2 separate regions of the Homo sapiens genome follow, and region 2 is linked to region 1. The links come from fine-mapping of genetic effects on gene expression. A gene starts in region 1. The other region holds a variant in brackets. All regions are shown on one strand. Distances are from middle to middle.

Region 1 (10,603 bases):
CCAGTCTAGGCCTCCCAAACTGCTGGGATTACAGGTGTGAGCCACCACGCCCAGCTGAATATTTTTGATGGACGACATGGTCTCTGGGCTTGGTCCAGCTACTTCTGGGCATTGGAGAAATGGGTAGGAGGTGGAAATAGGGCTTCTAGTTTCCCTCCCCACAATGAAGTCCCCATGGCTGGTCCTGGGACCCTGATGTGACTTGTATTGCCAGCTGGGATTCATTCTTGGGCACTGCCTGCCTGGAAGTCTCATTAATTCTTGCAGGTACTGTCAGGGCTGGGACTCAACCGGCAATTCCAGGCAGACTGGAGCTGCTGCTTCTCCTCTTCTCCCATCCAGGGTCACACCCAGGGCACTGGAAAGTCCCATGAAAAGAGATGGGCTCTGGTTCCTCCAGCTTCGTGATCTTGGGGTGGAGATGTTACAGGAAAGGGGGGTCCGATCCAGAGTCCAAGACAGGGTTCCTGGATATCACGCAAGAAAGAATTCAGGGCCTGGTGCGGTGGCTCACGCCTGTAATCCCAGCACTTTGGGAGGCCGAGGCGGGCAGATCACGAGGTCAGGAGTTAGAGACCAGCTTGGCCAATATGGTGTAACCCCATCTCTACTAAAAATACAAAAATTAGCCAGGCGTGGTGGCGCTCGCCTGTAGTCCCAGCTACTCGGGAGGCTGAGGCAAAAGAATCGCTTGAGCCTGGGAGGCGGAGGTTGCAATCAGTCAAGATCGTGCCACTGAACTCCAGCCTAGGTGACAGAGAGAGACTCCGTCTCAAAAAAAAAAAAAAAAAAAAGAATTCCAGGTGAGTCCGTAAAGTGGAAGCAAATTTGTAAGGAATAAAAGAATGGTTACTCCATAGAGCAGCCTCGAGGGCTGTATTTTTTTTTATTTTTTTTGAGATGGAGTCTCCATGTTGCCCAGGCTGGAGTGCAGTGGTGTGATCTTGGCTCACTGCAACCTCTGCCACCCGGGATCAAGCAATTCTCTTGCCTCAGCCTCCTGAGTAGCTGGGATCACAGGCATGCGCCACACGCCCGGCTAATTTTTGTATTTTAAGTAGAGACGGGGTTTCGCCATGCTGGCCAGGCTGTTCTTGAACTCCCGACCTCAAGCGATCTGCCAGCTTCGGCCTCCCAAAGTGCTGGGATTACAGGCATGAGCCACCACACTCAGCCTTATTTCTTGATGATATGCTAAACAAGGGGTGGATTATTCCATGCCTCTTGTTTTTAGTCCATATAAAGTAACTTCCTGGCGTTGCCATGGCATTTGTAAACTGTAATGGTGCTGGTGGGAGTGTAGCAGTGAGGACCAGACGTTACTCTCATGGCCATCTTGGTTTTGGTGGGTTTGAGCCAGCTTCTTTACTGCAACCTGTTTTATCAGCAAGGTCTTTATTTATGTATTTTTCTAAATTATTTTTAAAATTTTTATCTTTTTTGAAACAGAGTCTCACAATGTCACCCAGGCTGGAGTGCAGTGGCGCGATCCTGGCACACTGCACTCTCCACCTCCCGGGTTCAAGTAATTCTGCCTCAGCCTCCCTAGTAGCTGGGATTACAGGCGCACGCCACCACACCCGGCTAATTTTTGCATTTTTAGTACAGATGGGGTTTCACCATGTTGGCCAGGCTGGTCTCAAAATCCTGACCTCGTGATCTGCCCACCTTAGCCTCCCAAAGTGACGGGATTACAGGCGTGAGCCACCACGCCCGGCGAGGTCTTTATTTTTATTTATTTATTTATTTATTTATTTATTTATTTATTTATTTATTTGAGATGGAGTCTCACTCTGTCACCCAGGCTGGAGTGCAGTGGGGTGATCTCGGCTCACTGCAACCTCTGCCTCTCGGGTTCGAGCGATTCTCCTGCCTCAGCCTCCAAGTAGTTGAGATTACAGGTGCCCACCACCACGCCCATCTAATTTTCGTATTTTTATTAGAAATCGGGTTTTGCCATGTTTTCCATACTGGTCTCGAACTCCTGACCTCAAGTGATCCGCCCACTTCCGCCTCCCAAACTGTTCGGATTATAGGCATGAGCCACTGCACCCAGCCAGCAAGGTCTTTATGAACTGTATTTTGCGCTGACCTCCTGTCTTATCCTGTGACTAAGAATGCCTTAACCATTTAGGAATGAAGCCTAGCAGGTCTCAGCCTCATTTTACCCAGTTCCTGTTCAAGATGGAGTTGCTCTGGTTCACACGCCTCTGGCAGAGAGGGCACCTACTTCCTCTCTCTGGGCATCCATTGCCCACCTGTCAAGAGCGGGGAGCGTCCCACTTTGCTGGGTTCGCTGGGAATTATGTGGCTATTATTACCTCTACAACCTTATCTCTCCTGGCTTTAGCAGAAGTTCCTGTTCCCAGCTTTGAAGGCAGTTCTCTCCCCCCGTTTTTTTTTTTTTTTTTTGAGACGGAGTCTCACTGTGTTGCCCAGGCTGGAGTACAGTGGCGCGATCTTGGCTCACTGCAACCTCTGCCTCCCAGGTTCAAGTGATTCTCCCACCTCAGCCTCCCCAGTAGCTGGGACTACAGGCACGTGCCACCACACCGACCTATTTTAGTATTTTTAGTAGAGACAGGATTTCGCCGTGTTGGCCAGACTGTTCTGGAACTCCTGAACTTGGCCTCCCAAAGTGCTGGGATTACAGGCATGAGCCATCATGACCGGCCCCTCCACCTGGATTTATGAGGCTTGCTTCGTCTCTCACCACTCAGGCTCATTCTGTGGGACATCCCCCCTCAGATAACACTGGCTACAGCATCCTCTCATTCTCCTACCCCACTCTCTTATGTTGCTCTCAGGACTCTAAGGAGCCTATCTTACAATTTATCTGTTTATTGTGTATCCCATCCTAGAATGCAAAGGGAGTTGTTTGCTTTCTTTTTTTTCCTTTTTTTCTTTTTTTTCTGAGACTCAGGCTGGACCACACAATCATTGCTTACTGCAGCCTCTACCTCCGGAGCTGAACCAATCCTGCCAGCCTCAGCCTCCAGAGTAGCTGGGACCACAGGCACATGCCACCACGCCTAGCTAATTGCTTTTTTTTTTTTGAGACAAAGTCTCGCTCTGTCGCCCAGGCTGGAGTGCAGTGGCAGAATCTTGGTTCACTGCAACCTCCCCCTCCCGGGTTCAAGCAATCCTCCTACCTCAGCCTCCGGAGTAGCTGGGATTACAGGCATACACTACCATGCCCAGCTAATTTTTGTAGAGACGGGTGTCTTGCTTTGTTGCCAAGGCTGGTCTTGAACTCCTTGGCTCAAGCAATCTTCCTTGCTTGGCCTCCCAAAGTGCTGGGATTACAGGTGTGAGCCACCATAAATGAAGTCACCTTTCTTCACTTGTATAGCCCAGGGCCTTGCACCGAGGAAATATAATGTTGGTTGAATTAGGAAACAAACTTAGGTGGAGTCACTTTCTGAATGCCACACAGCAGGGCTGGCATTAGACTTCAGGGCTGTCTGAGCCTGTTTTCTTTTCCCCTTGCTGTTCTAGGGCCTACCTGGGATGAGAATGCAAAATTTAAGAGAAGGCCAAAGAGCTCAGTCATAAGATAATTGACATTTAAAACATAAAAAGTAGGCCGGGCGTGGTGGCTCACGCCTGTAACCCCAGCACTTTGGGAGGCCGAGGCGGGCGGATCACGAGGTCAGGAGATCGAGACCATCCTGGCTAACACGGTGAAACCCCGTCTCTACTAAATATACAAAAAATTAGCCGGGCGTGGTGGCGAGCACCTGTAGTCCCAGCTACTCGGGAGGCTGAGGCAGGAGAATGGCGTGAACCTGGGAGGCGGAGCTTGCAGTGAGCCGAGATTGCGCCACTGCACTCCAGCCTCAGCGACAGAGTGAGACTCCGTCTCAAAAAATAATAATAATAAATTTATTTTAAACACAAGATCTGACCCTGAGCTTGCATAACGCATCTCACCTTAATCCCTGTGTTGGCGGATCCTGTCTTTATTTAAAATTGTGATGTTTTGTTCATCATAGATTTATTTTTTCCCATTAATTTGGATATTTAACAAATATTGAATTAGAAGATTATTTATCTTGATGACTGAGTTTTTGCTCCCAAGATGTTCACCCTAGTCCGGGCCCTGTTTCTGTCTCTTCTCGTCCTGCAGCACCCAGACAGTCCCTTGAGGAAACTGAGGCACAGAGGAGCGTATGTGTGGGAGGTGTGTGTGTGTGGCGGGGGTTGTGGTGAGCTCTCCTGGGCGGACCAAGCTCCCTGGGCTGGGTCGGGGCTGACCTTTGCTTATCTACCGCGGTTGAAGCCGCGAATGAAGTCCCCCGCCTTGCAGAGACCTTTCCCAAGGCGGCCGCACCGCCTGCGGGGCAGAGATAGCCGCGGTCACCCCGGCAGCGGTGACCTTTTCCGGCTGGAGGGGACCGGGAGGCGGGAGAAGGCGCGGCGGCCGCGCTGTCTGGCCGGCTTGGGCGGAGGAGGATGTCACCCCAGCGGGTGGGAGCTGGGATCGAACCCCGCCGCGGCCTCCCGCTTCCACCCAACCCCGACGGGGCCATGGGCAGTGGGGAAGGGGGACGCGCGCCCAGTGACGTCATCGAATCCCGAGTCCGGCCTTCGCCGCTGTCGTCACAGAGGGGCTGCGCTGCGTCACTGCATTCCTCCCCTGACGTCAGCGCAAGAAGCCAGAAACTGGCCCACCGAGCGAGAGAGAAGTCTGGAGCGGAGTCTTCCTTTCTCGCCTTTTTAATTTGGTAAGACATGTAAAGTGTACGCAAGAGCGGACTACAACTCCCAATCGGCCTTGCGTGCCGAGCATGCGCACGGCCTCCAGCCAGAGAGCGCGGCAAACCTTTGGTAGATTGACGTCCCTTTAGTCGAACCAGGAGGCCGGTTTTACATCGGCAAACCAATCCCGTCCTCACGAGTCCTACCCCTTTATTCTTAACCAGCTGCTTCCCTGCCGGAGTGACGGGCCCGGCTGCCTTTGAGGGTTCAGTTTCTTTTGATGGACATTCATACTGATAAATCAGATCGCCGGGAAGTCCAGAGGGTGTTGAAAAGCGTGCATCGGAACTAATAGTTTAGCTGCAAGGCCTGGCGCCGTCCAATCACTTCTCCGGCCGCCGCCAATCACCCCGGGCCCCGCCCCCGCGCGTGACGTAACTAGGGTGGGTAGCAACAGTTGCCCCGGTGAGGGAAACGGAGGCGCCATAGCCACGGTAGTCGTGGCGACCAAGCAACCCGGCAACGCGAGTCAACAACAACAACCGCCCGGCCGACCCCCACCCCCACCCCCCAGGCCCGGCCCGGGGACCCCAGCACGTCCCGTCCCCTTCCCAACATCGACTCCGAGACCTCCGAAAAGCGTTTCCGCAGACAGAAGTGGGGAGAAGCGGAGGTAACCAGGGCGGCCCCGGGGTGGCTGGCCGGGCCGGGGTGGGCGGCGGGGCCGGGGCAGTAGGTGTCTCTGTAATCACAGTCCGGGGGGAAGGGGCGGGCGGTCAAAATGGCGGCGGCGACTGTCTGGACCGTGGGGGAGGGGGCCGGGGCCCGGCTGGAACGACACCACCCGCCCCCGTCCCCGCGGCCCGGCCCCCGCGAGGGGCGGGCGCTCGCAGGCCCGCGGCGAGTGGAGGTCGGCAGGCCGGGGCGGGGGGCTTTTATATGTCGGGAGCGCGAAGGGGCGGGCCTGGGGAGGCTGGGCCAATGGGAGCGAGGGAGGTACGAGGCGGGGCCAAGGTGGGTGGGCGGGACCAGGAGGGAAGGTATGGGCGGGGCCGGCTGGGTCTCCCCAACCTCCACCTCGGGAACCAGGGTGGGCAGCCACCACCCGGTCCGCCTTCCAGATCCTTAAGCGACTCCCTTCTTCCTTAAGAGCTTTGCAGTTGTCCCAGGACTCAGAACTTGGACAAGTGCCTGTCCATCTGAGGCCTCAGTTTTCCATCCTGTAAAATGGGGAGAATCATTGACATCGCCCTTTTCCTGCAGTACCGGGACTCCTCATTCCTTCCAGGAATTTTACTTACGGCTTATCTTTGAACCTTTTCCTCGTATCTACCGTTTCTGAATGTGGTTTGATAAAATAACTGTCAGCTAGTCCTGATTTCAACACTGCAGCCCACTCCTAAACCTGCCACCTTCTCTCTGGGAGGAAGCAAAGAGGAAGCAAAGTTTCATGGAGGAGCTAGGAGTCGATTTGGCTTTAGCGTGGAGGATCTGGTTTGCAGAAATCAAAGTCCATGGTAGGGAGGAGTGACCATGAGGGAATGCTTTAGAGGAACAGAAACCTGAGTGCTTTTCTCTGGGCTGCTGTTTGAGACCTGATGTTTCCTGGTTTGAGGTTGCGGGGGTTTGTTCCTGGAGATGGAACGTTTCTGGGTCCTGCCCATCGAGGTCTCCCCTACTGGGAATGGGGGAGCAAATGAAGCCTGAGGAAGTTTCTTAGATTTTTTAAACCCGCTTCTCTTGGCCAGACACATGTTTTTGTGTCAAACGAGTGTCAACCGAGTCACATGTCACTGACAAGGTCCCAGCCTCTAGGGCCACGTGGGCAGGAGCGGTCAGAGGGAAGGGGAAGCTATCCATGTTTGTGAGAGGAGAATCTTTGCCACTGCTTTTTAGGGTGACAATATCCTGCCAGCTCGGGGAGGAATTTTTTTTTTAAGTAGCCAGCCAGGCCAAGTCTAGTTGGCTTATTCTCCGTCTTGCTTTTGAGCTTAGTGTCGGTGTGCAAACTGCAGCCATTTCCTTTTAAATCAGTCAATACATTCCAAGGAAAAGGATCATTTCAGGCTTTTTCCCAAGAGTTTGAGATTGGTCTGGTGGGGGTTGGCGGGTCCTAACTTCTCCAGGTACTTTTTCTAGGCCTGGCCCTTTTTAGAGGAGGCAGGGACTCTTTGAAAGTTAGGACAGGTGGAGATTAATTTTCAGTAAAACAAACAAAAAAGCTAGAAATGCCAAGTTGCTAGACGGATCATCAGCACTTTTTTTTTTGGAGACGGAGTCTCACTCTGTGGCCAGGCTGGAGTGCAGTGGCTTGATTTTGGCTCACTGCAGCCTCCGCCTCCCGGGTACAAGTGATTCTCCTGCCTCAGTCTCCTGAGTCGCTGGGACTACAGGCGCTCGCCATCATGCCCGGCTGATTTTCGTATTTTTAGTAGAGACGGGGTTTCACCATGTTGGTCAGGATGGTCTTGATCTCTTGACCTCGAGATTTACCTGCCTCGGCCTCCCAAAATGCTGGGATTACAGGCGTGAGCCACCGCGCCCGGCTAGCCCTTCTTAAAAAAGCTAACTGAGCAGGCTGGGCGTGGTGGCTCACACCTGTAATCCCAGCACTTTGGGAGGCTGAGGTGGGCGGATCACCTGAGGTCAGGAGTTTGAGACTAGCCCGGCCAACATGGTGAAACCCTGTTTCTAAAAAAATTAGCCAGGCGTGGTGGCACATGCCTGTAATCCCAGCTACTCGGGAGGCTGAGACACAAGAATTGCTTGAGCCTGGGAGGCGGAGGTTGCAGTGAGCTGAGATCACAGGCCACTGCACTCCAGCCTGGGCAACAGAGTGAGACTTGTCTCAAAAAAAAAAAAGCTAACTGAGCAGAAAGTGATGTTACCAATTATCTGGTCATGTTGACTGCCTCAGTCACCAGTTACATTTACAGATGAAGGGCCTGAGGAGTCATTTGACTAGGAAGAGAACACTAGGGTGATTTGAAGCTGACTTGAAACAGTCAGCTTTTCTAGCTGTGTGCTCTTAGGTGAGTTACTTAAGTTTTCTGGGCCTCAGTTTCCCTTCCTTTCATCTAGGGGCAGTAATCCTTGGTAGTCCTTTCAATCTCATGTTTCTGTGCTATGGATCCCAGAAAATAATACCTGTTGAATATCAAATACATAGGAATTGCTGAAACTAACTAAATACAAAGTAATTGCTAATGTAGTTATGTTAGCCTCTGCTGTTACGGTGATTGTCGCTTCCTGTTCAACCCTCGGAAATACACCGTTGGCTTTTATTTTTATCATTTTGAATCCAGTGAGAGCCCTCGTGGCTTTAAAGGTTGACTTGCTTCTCGCTTGCTGGGCTGTGTGGGTCGATGACAGGGATCCAGGAAGCTGGATACCAGGGATCCAGTTTGTAGTGGGAAAGTCACTCCCCTGGCTGCTGAATGGCTGTTCTCTGGCTTTAGGAGAGTCACTAGAAAGAAAAATCCTGGCCGGGCACAGTGGCTCAATTTGGGTGCTCACTCCCCCAGCACTTTGAGAGGCCAAGGTGGGTGGATCACTTGAGGTAAAGAGTTGGAGACCAGCCTGGCCAACACGGTGAAACCCTATCTCTACTAAAAATACAAAAAGTAGCCGGGCATGGTAGCACATGACTGTAGTAGTCCCAGCTATTTAGGAGGCTGAGGCAGGAGAATCCCTTGAACCGTGGAGATGGAAGTTGCAGTGAGCCAAGATCGTGCCACTGCACTTGAGCCTGGGTGACAGAGCAAGACTGTCTCAAAACACACACACAAAATGCTACTTGGGCTCAGGCCCAGACACAGTCCCAAGCCTTCCAGGAGGCAGCTGGGTGAGCGGGGATGTGGACATTGTGGGAACGGTGGGGAGCTTGGAATGGCGTCTCTGGAGCCGAGGTCCTCACCCTTCTCCTCTGTCATGTACCTGAGCATCTCAGGGAAGGGGATGGCCAGGCTGCCCCGCCCGCAGAGATGCTGCCTTCAATAGCAGCTGTACAGGACGTGGTCTTCCTAGGCGAGAAAGACTTTCTCCCACCTGCTTCCCAGGCCTGTTCTGGACCAGAAGGCATTGCCTGGCTCTGTAGCACAAGCAGGCTTGTGGCAGGAAGTAACTTTCTCACACGGTCTCAGCAGTTGATAGACTGGAACCTGCCTTTGATGCTCACTAGCAGTGTGTTCTGGTGCATCATTTATGCTGCCTGGACAGTAAGAGTCAAAACCCCCACTATTTGCCTGTCAGTTTTCTTTTCTTTTTTCTTTCTTTCTTTCTTTTTTTTGTTGAGACAGAGTCCTACTCTGTCGCCCAGGATGGAGTGCAGTGGCGTGATCTCAGCTCACCGCAACCTCCACCTCCCCAGTTCAAGCAATTCTCCTGCTTCAGCCTCCCGAGTAGCTGGGATTACAGATGCCTGCCACCATGCCTGGCTAATTTTTTTTTTTTTTTTTTTTTGAGACAGAGTCTCACTCTGTCATCCAGGCTGGAGTGCAGTGGCACGATCTTGGCTCACTGCAACATCCACCTCCTGGGTTCAAGCAGTTCTCTTGCCTCAGCCATCCGAGTACCTGGGAATACAGATGCCCGCCACCATGACCGGCTCATTTTTGTTTTGTTTCGGTTTGGTTTATTTGAGACGGAGTGTCTCTCTTGTTGCCCAGGCTGGAATGCAATGGCGCAATCTTGGCTCACCGCAACCTCCACCTCCCAGGTTCAAGAGATTCTCCTGCCTCAGCCTCCCGAGTAGCTGGGATTACAGGCACCCACCACCATGCCCGGCTAATTTTTGTATTTTTAGTAGAGACAGGGTTTCACCATGTTGGCCAGGCTGGTGTCGAACTCCTGACCTCAGGTGATCCACACGCTTTGGCCTCCCAAAGTGCTGGAACTATAGGTGTGAGCCACCGCAGCAGCCTAATTTCTGTATTTTTAGTAGAGACAGGGTTTCACCATGTTGGCCAGGCTAGACTTGAAATTCTGACTTCAGGCGATCTGCCCGCCTCAGCCTCCCAAAATATTGGGATTACAGGCGTGAGCCACTGCTCCCGGCCTTGCCTGTCAGTTTTCTAGGAGCTGAGACAGAGACCAGGCCCACCAGGTCTCTGCCTGTGGGGCCCTTACCTTTCCAGTCAGGGAGGGAAGAGGAACTAGGAGGAAGAAAATAAATCCAGCCAGACTCAGTGGCTTATGCTTGTAATCCCAGCACTTCGGGAGGCTGAGACATGAGGATCACTTAAGCCCAGGAGTTTGAGACCAGCCTGGGCAACATAGCGAGACCCCATCTCTTAAAAAGATTTAAAAATTAGCCAGGTGTCGTGGCACAGGCCTGCGTTCCCATATACTGTGGAGGCTGAGGCCGGAGGATCACTTGAGCCCAGGAATTCAAGGTTACAGTGAGCTGTGATTGTGCCACTGTGCTCCAGCCTGGGCAACAGAGTGAGACCTTGTCTCTAAGAAACGAAAAAGAAAGAAAATAAACTCAACAGGGAAACACAGTGTCAGGAAGCAAATAAAATAGTAGTATGTGCTTGAGGGTACCTTCAGACCCAAGGAAGTGTGTACGAGCTGAGACCTGAATAAGGAGGAGAAGCCAGCCGTGAAGGTGGCGGTGGGGACAGCATGCCAGGTGGGAGGAAGAGGTGGGGCCGAGGCCATGAGAGGCAGGAATGGATCTGCAGCATTTTTTTGTTTTGTTTTGTTTTTTGTTTTTTTTGTTTTTGCAGAGAGGCTCACTGCAACCTCTGCCTCCTGGGTTCAAGCAATTCTACCTCAGCCTCCCGAGTAGCTGGGATTACAGGCACACGCCATCACGCCCACCTAATTTTTAAAATTTTTTTGTCGAGATGGAGTCTCGGCTATGCTGCTAAGACTGGTCTCAAACTTCTGGCCTCAAGCA
Region 2 (8,000 bases), 30 kb after region 1:
AGCCTCTGCAGGAGGCAGAGCCCTGAGCCGGCGCAGGTTAAGATGCTGGGGCTGCGCACCATCTGGTTGTTACCACTGAAGTTGAGGGGGTTCCAAGCCCCTTGAAAAAACAGATGAAATCCATAGACCCTTCCCCAAGTGTAAACAGAAACCCTGTCCCAGAGGTTTCACAGATACTCCCCCGCCTGGCACTAGAGCCCCCCCGAACCTCCAGACCTAGGTCCAGGCCCCAGCTCCTCCACTCAGCACCCTCCTCCGCCAGCCTCCGTCCCTGGCTCTGCGCCCCTAGGATAATCCCCGCATGCCCGCCACAGCACAGAACAGGGCACACAGTTGACATTGGGGGGTGTGGGGACGAAAGATAACCCAAGGCCTTGCCTGCGGGTTCTTGGCACAGCTTCAGGGGCCCGTAGGGAGAGGGGGCGGAGAGCAGAGACCCCGAAGTTAGTCCCAGGTTCAACTCAGCCCTGCTGCTTCCTGGGAGCCTCACTTTATCAGTAATGGATCCAGCACCCTCCTTGCTTGGCTGGAGAATGGTGGCCTCTTGCTTATGGGTCTGCTGTGAGCTTTACAGAAGCTCACCTGTGCAGGGGCTGGGTAGGTTGACGGCCATCGTTGCCATGGTCATCTTATTGTTGCCTTTCCCCTCCCAGAGATCTGTGGTCCAGGCCACTCCACAAGCGCCCAAACCCGGCCCGGTGCAGCCGCTGACCGTGCAGGGCCTCCAGCCAGTCCACGTGGCTCAAGAGGTGTGTGTCTCCCCCTCCTACCCCACGGGCAAAGGGGCTGGTCCCGGGCTGGGGCTGGGGAGTGCAGGCCCCTGAGGCCGCAGGGAGGGAAATGCCTCTGTGAGCTGCAGACACTGCCCTACATCCTTCCCCTTTCCCGGCCCCCTGGCAGCTCAGGGTCCAGGTTTTGCTAAGAGAGATCTGGATTCAAACCCCTCTTCTTTCTTGCGTGGCCCTGGGTCAGTTCTAACCCCTCTCCGAGACCCCGGGCGGCGGGGATCTTCCCTCGGGTGGCTGCGTGCGCGCTCAGCAACCCGGTGGGTGGAGGCCTGGAGCCCCGCCCGCGGCCGCCCCCGTTGACCCCCCAGTGTCTCTGTTTGTCCTCCAGAGCTCAGGCAGTCAGTTTCCCGCTAGGAAGGCAGAGCAGCGAGATCCCCGGCCCACGCCGCCGCCGGAGCCGCCGCCCCGGCCGCCCGCGTGCAGCGGCGAGGCCCCGCAGCTAGGCAGCCCCGAGCCGCCGCCGCCCCATTACGAGCCGGGCGCCGAGCAGTGGGTGGAGCTGGTGGGCGTGCTGCCCCCACACCTGCTCCTGCCGCAGCAGAAAGTGGTCTTCGAGCCACTGTCCCGGCTCCCGGCCCGAGCCAGCCCCGACCAGAGGGTCAGGATCCAGAGAATCCCCCAGGTGCTAGTGTTCGGCACGGCCGCCACGGCCCTCAAAGTAGGTGGCGGACGCACGGGCGGGGGGCAGCGGGCGGGCGGGGGCGGGGGCGCCCAGTCTGGGCCGCCCACCAGGCCCCGCAAGCCCTGTAGACCCCACCTCCGCCCGACGGGTCGGTCTAGGGACCCGCCTCTGACTCCCCACCCAAGCCCCGTCCAGGTCCCAGCTCCGCCCCTGCAGACAAGGGTGGGGGATGGAGGTGGGGGACTCAGGCCCCGCCCCTAAGGCCCTGTCAGTGATTCCAGGTTCTGTCCCACCAACCGGGGCCCCAGGCTCCGCCCCTCACATCCTGTGCCCGGTTTCCAGGCCCCACCCCTGAGGCCCTTTCTGTAGCTCCATGGCTCCAGCGATAGCCTTGCCCCTGTGCCTGGGGTCCAACCTTCACGCCCACTACAGGACCCTGTCTCGGGTCCCCTCCACTGTCCGTCAGGCCCCACCCTTGCTGGCCCCAGCCGAAGCCGAGAGTCCTGGCTTCTCCTGACACAGCTCTTCCTGATTCCCAGCCCTGGCCTCCTCCAGGGTGTTTTGTTGAGAGTCCAGAAGCCACCCTTGGGTCCGGGAGCTGGGCGTCAGGGATAGCCTGGGTGGGCACCAGCCCTTTAGAGGGAGAACCGTAGGAGCTGGCCCACCCCTGACCCTCCACGTGCCCTTCCTCTGCCCCAGGTGCAGCAGCTCCAGCAGGTGCCCGTCCCACACGTGTACTCCAGCCAGGTGCAGTATGTGGAGGGCGGCGATGCCAGCTACACGGCCAGTGCCATGTAAGTGAAGGGAGAGGGGTGGGTGAGGGAGTCAGGTCTGCACTGGAGCCTCCCCAGTCTCCCAGGACACCAGTCCCCAGTCCCAGCCCCCAGCAGGCCATCCGGCCTTCAAGGCCTCAGGTGACAGACACACAGGTGGGCACTCCCCAGGGGCAGCCACAGCCACGAAAAGTGGCGAAGCAGAGGGACCCTTGAAGGTTGGGAAAGGCACCCCGGCATAGCTTAGGGCTTGGGAGTCAAATGAGCCTGGTTTTTAACCAAAAAAAAAAAAAAAAGGCCAGGCACGGTGGCTCACGCCTGTAATCCCAGCACTTTGGGAGGCCTAAGCGGGCAGATCACTTGAGGTCAGGAGTTCAAGACTAGCCTGGCCAACATGGTGAAACCCTGTCTCTACTAAAAATACAAAAGTTAGCCAGGAGTGGTGGCAGGCACCTGTAATTCCAGCTACTCGGGAGGCTGAGGCAGAAGAATTGATTGAACCCAGGAGGCGGAGGTTGCAGTGAGCTGAGATCGTGCCACTGTACTCTAGCCTGGGCAATAGAGTGACACTCCATCTCAAAAAAAAAAAATCATTTGACTCTCAACCCTGTCCCAGAGAGGATGCTGTGACCTGTTTCTTTGTTTCTTTCCAGAGATACTCTAAGAACAGAAACTCTAGCCCTCTATCCATTTTTTTCTTTTTTTTTGTTTTTTTTTTTGAGATGGAGTCTTGCTCTATCGCCAGGCTGGAGTGCAGTGGTGTGATCTCGGCTCACTGCAACCTCTGCCTCCTGTGTTCAAGTGATTCTCGTGTCTCAGCCTCCCGGGTAGCTGGGATTACAGGCACACACCACCACACCCAGCTAATTTTTGTGTTGTTAGTAGAGATGGGGTATCACCATGTTGGTCAGGCTGGTCTTCAATTCCTGACCTCGTGATCCACCCGTCTCAGCCTCCCAAAGTGCTGGGATTACAGGCATGAGCCACCGCACTGGACTTTTTTTTTCTGTTTTTTTTGAGACAGGGTCTCACTCTGTCGCCCAGGCCAGAGAGCAGTGGCGCGATCAGGGCTCACTGCAGCTCACGGGCTCAAGCAATCCTCTTACCTCAGCCTCCCTAGTAGCTGGGACTACAGGTGTGCACCACCATGCTCAGCTAATTTTTGTATTTTTGTAGAGATGGGGTTTTGCCACGTTGCCCAGGCTCATCTCCTCGAACTCTTGGACTTAAATGATCCTCCCGTCTTGGCCTCCGAAAGTGCTGGGATTACAGGCATGAGCCACAGTGCCCAGCCTCTACCCGCTTTCTGTGGTCAGAAATAGACGCAGGACATTCCATCCATACCTTATTTCTTTCCTGGCTCTTCT[A/C]CCATGTGTCCTCGTGGGTCCTGGTCACCCTCTTAGCTGCTGTGTAATAACCCCTGTGCAGATGCAGCAGCCACGATGTCATCAGTCCCCACCCAGTGATGCATAGGGGGCTTCTTCCCCTCCCTGGGTACAGCACTACCATTCCTGTGTATGGGCCGTGTCAGGCAGGGGCCACGTCCTGGCCCCGCTTCAGTCCCGGCTCGGGCTCCTCGCCGGGGGTCCTCCATGCCACCTTCCCTCTCCCATCTCCACAGAAATTGCTGCAGTACTAGAGTTACTGTTGGTTTAGTTTCCAGAGGTTTCACTTGGTTTTCTTTGCATTTGCATGATTTCTTTTTTCATCCCTGCCACTTGTTCTTCTGGGGACAATGCTGGGATTGGTTAGCTCATGGATCGACTTAGTCCTAGGGTCATGATGCTCTGACCGACCCCAGTGGGCCTGGTCCAGGCATCTAAATCGTGAGGCTTGGTCCCCGGCGTCCGGCTACCTCACAGTTCCATTTGTTTCTTTCCAGTGCTGCTAATCTTTTCACTGTGTGGTTGAGCCAAGCTGGCAGGGGCCAGACAGGGCATTGCAAAGAGGAACACGGTGTCCAAGGGTTCCTGCTGCCATCCCTGGTAGCGTCTCTCCTGTCTCTCCTTTGCTTCTGTCTGAATTCCTCTCTCAGTGATCATAGTGTGTGTGATTGCACCTAGTTCATCGTTGCTATCGGGTTTTTCTGCTACGAGAAGTTGTTGGGGGCCACTCCTGCTGTCAGCTGCCCACCCCTTCTGTCTCTCCCTCTGAGTGAATTACTGCGAGTTCCCGACCCTTTGCCAGCCCTATCCCCACCCTGGCCAAAGCCACAGCCCCTGGGCCTCCATCCCTGGTCCTGTTCTGGGGGGCATCCAGAGCTGCACACATTCATTTATTCAGTCATTCAGCAACCATCTACCAAAGCAACCTTTTTGCAGCACACATTGCATGCTGGGTGTGCAGGAGTGAGCAGGCTGTGGCCCCCGCCTTGGAGAAGTAGGGGCTCTTGCTCAGGTCATGTGCTCTTGGTGTCACTTTGTGTGGTAGACATAGGGCAGGACAGAGAGATCGAGAGCTGGACCTGATGTGTGACAAAGACCATGCTTCCATATCTCCTTCCACTGTCCCCCTCAACTCCCTCTCTTTGTTCACCCACAACCACTCGGGCCTGTGCGGCTCCCTCCCCTGCCACCTTCAGAGTCTGAGCCAGGCCACCTCTTGACTGACCACACTGTCTTTCTGGATGTTTAATTTTTTTTTTTTTTTTTGAGATAGAGTTTCCCTCTTGTTGCACAGCTGGAGTGCAATGGTGCAATCTTGGCTCACTGCAACCTCCACCTTCAGGGTGGTTCTCCTGCGATTCTCCTGCCTCAGTCTCCCGAGTAGTTGGGATTACAGGCGCCCACCACCACACCCGGCTAACTTTTTGTATTTTCAGTAGAGAGAGGGTTTCATCATGTTGGCCAGGCTGGTCTTGAACTCCTGACCTCAGGTGATCCACCCGCCTTGGCCTCCCAGAGTGCTGGGGTTACAGGTGTGAGCCACCGTGCCTGCCCCTGCCCCCCTCCCTTTTTTTTTTTTTTTTTGAGGTGGAGTTTCACTCTGTCACCCAGGCTGGAGTGCAGTGGCATGATCTCAGCTCACTACAGCCTCCACCTCCCAGGTTCAAGTGATCCTCCTGCCCCAGCCTCCTGAGTAGCTGGGACTACAGGCGCCTGCCACCATGCCTGGCTAATTTTTGTATTTTTAGTAGAGACGGTTTCACTATGTTGGCCAGGCTGGTCTCGAACTCCTGACCTCAAGTGATCCACCCGCCTCGTCCTCCCAAAGTGCTGGGATTACAGGTGTGATTACACTGCACCTGGCCTAATGCTATGTTTTTAATCACTAGTACATTGAAAGAGTTCAAAGATCAAAACTATGTCCAACGATGTTTAGCGAGATGGTGAGAGGTGCCCCCTGCCTGTCCCCCTCGACGGAGCCCTCCATGCCCACAGATGACAGACACGCATGCCACATGCAACGCATTCTTCCCTATTGTTCGGTCACACGGTCCCCACTCTTCTCTGCCTCTTATCTGCCCGGTGTTAGGTTCTGGAGCTTGTTCTTTCGGGGGACGACAAGCCTTGCCTCCTTCTCTTTCACCCCTGCATAGGATTCCATCATCTTTTGTTTAACAGCCCCTTGAGGTTGAACCCCTGGTGGTTTTTATACTTGTATACTTGTGACGATTTGCAGCCTCAAGCCTGTGTCACCGGTGCCCATCCCGTCACGCGATATCTGAAGGAGAGAGGCTTCCCCAGCCTGGGATAGGTAGCTTGGCTCAGGGGAAACATATCTGCATTCCTGATGGTCTTCTCCAATCACAGCGTCGCCTTCTCTAGTCCCTTCCAATCACAGCATCGCCTTCTCTAGCCCCACCCCCTTCCTGCTTCACTCACTGCCTGATCACCTTCTGTTATGATCTCTCATTTACCTTTGCACGTGGCTTCTTGCCTGTCTCCCCAACTAGACGGTTCCGGGGGCCGGGGCTTTTCATTCTTGTCCATTGCTGTGTCCAAAGTGTGTGAAACAGTGCCTAGCACACAGTAGGCACTCGAAGTACTTGCCAATTTTATTTTTTTAATGAAGTGTGTAGCATTCCAAGTTCCCTAACCCTTCGGTATTTTTTTTTTTTTTTAATTAAAAAGACAGGGTCGGCCAGGTGTGGTGGCTCATGCCTGTAATCCCAGGACTGTGGGAGACTGAGGCGGGTGGATCACTTGAGGTCAGAAGTTCGAGACCAGCCTGGCCAACATGGTGGAACACCAACTGTACTAAAAAAATACAAAAATTAACCTGGTGTGGTGGTGAGCCCTGTATTCCCAGCTCCTTGGGAGGCTGAGGCAGGAGGATAGCTTGAACCCAGGAGGCGGAGGTTGCAGTGAGCCAAGATTGCGACACTGCACTCTAGCCTGGGTGACAGAGCAAGACTCTGTCTCAATAAGTAAATAAATAAATAAAATAACAAAAATAAAAAGCCAGAGTCTCACTGTCACCTAGGCTTTGCTGCAGTGGTAGTATGGTTATAGCTCACTACAACCTTGAACTCCTGGACTCAAGGGATCTTCCTGCCTCAGCCTCCCAAGTAGCTGGGATTGCAGGTGTGCACCAGCATGCCTGGCTAATCTTCATATTTTTTGTAGAGATGGGTTTTCACTATGTGGCCCAGGCTAGTCTTGAACTCCTGGCCTTCAACGATCCTCCTGCCTCTGCTTCCCAAAGTGCTGGAATTACAGGCAGGAGCCACCATGCCCAGCTGATGATTATATGAAATACTGCCCATCAAGCACTCAGGATGGTACCCAGTCCGTTGTAGATGAATGCTAGGATCTGCTCCTTGCTGCAGGGGAGCTGCTGCTTCCCCAGTCCCCTCCTAGGACCCCCCTTCCTGCACAGTCATGCCCCTCGGCCCCCCAGTTCTCATCCCCCTGACTCTCCCTTGGCTTTGCCTCTTTCCCAGCCGTTCCAGCACCTACTCCTATCCCGAGACGCCGCTGTACACGCAGACGGCAAGCACCAGCTACTACGAGGCCGCAGGCACGGCCACCCAGGTCAGCACCCCCGCCACCTCCCAGGCGGTGGCCAGCAGTGGCTCCATGCCCATGTACGTGTCCGGCAGCCAGGTCGTCGCCAGCTCCACCAGCACTGGGGCTGGGGCCAGCAACAGCAGCGGAGGTGGTGGCAGTGGTGGTGGCGGCGGCGGCGGGGGAGGCGGTGGCGGGGGTGGCAGTGGCAGCACCGGAGGCGGCGGCAGCGGAGCAGGCACCTACGTGATCCAAGGCGGCTACATGCTGGGCAGTGCCAGCCAGTCTTACTCTCACACCACCCGTGCCTCGCCAGCCACGGTAAGTGCCCCAACGCGGGCCCCAGAGGAGGCAGGCAGTGGTGGGTGGTGGGCACTAGAAGCCCAGTCCATGACGGTGGTTACCAACCACCGCTAGCAGGAGCCTGTGTGGCCCCCAATGAAGAGAACATATGCAGATGTCCTGGGATTGAATGCTGTGTGGCCTCAGATAAATTACTCAGCCTCTCTGGGCCTCAGCTGATATGCATGAAATTCTTAACACAATACTACAGAAGTGTTGTCTATTGTTGGCTGGGCGCTGTGGCTCACACCTGTAATCCCAGGACTTTGGGAGACTGAAGTGGGTGGATCACCTGAAGTCAGGAGTTCAAGACCAGCCCGACCAACATGGTGAAACTCCATCTCTACTAAAAATACAAAAATTAGCCGGGCATGGTGGTATGCACCTGTAATCCCAGCTACTCAGGAGGGTGAGGCATGAGACTTGCTTGAACCTGGGAGGTGGTTGCAGTGAGCGGAGACTGCGCCACCGCACTCAAGCCTGGGAGACACAGCAAGATTCTGTCTCAAAAAAAAAAAAAAAATGT

Evidence for each region. PIP is the estimated chance that this variant, and not a neighbour inherited with it, causes the effect.
Region 2: its variant is the best candidate, but not a certain one, in a credible set for the expression of RFX1 in aorta (GTEx, PIP 0.62).

What each region holds. Positions count from the first base shown.
Region 1 is chr19:14,000,874-14,011,476 of GRCh38, reverse strand. RFX1 (regulatory factor X1) reads left to right here and starts at 5,157. Exons shown (of 21, transcript NM_002918.5): 1 at 5,157-5,374. RefSeq lists enhancers at 4,347-4,874, 4,875-5,402, 5,403-5,931 and silencers at 5,126-5,305, 5,356-5,735.
Region 2 is chr19:13,972,196-13,980,195 of GRCh38, reverse strand. RFX1 (regulatory factor X1) reads left to right here. Exons shown (of 21, transcript NM_002918.5): 7 at 654-749; 8 at 2,110-2,204; 9 at 7,069-7,453. Among named protein-coding and RNA genes, the nearest start is that of DCAF15, 24 kb to the right of the region's middle. RefSeq lists enhancers at 1-169, 170-696. The variant A/C (reference allele first, on the strand shown) is at 3,551.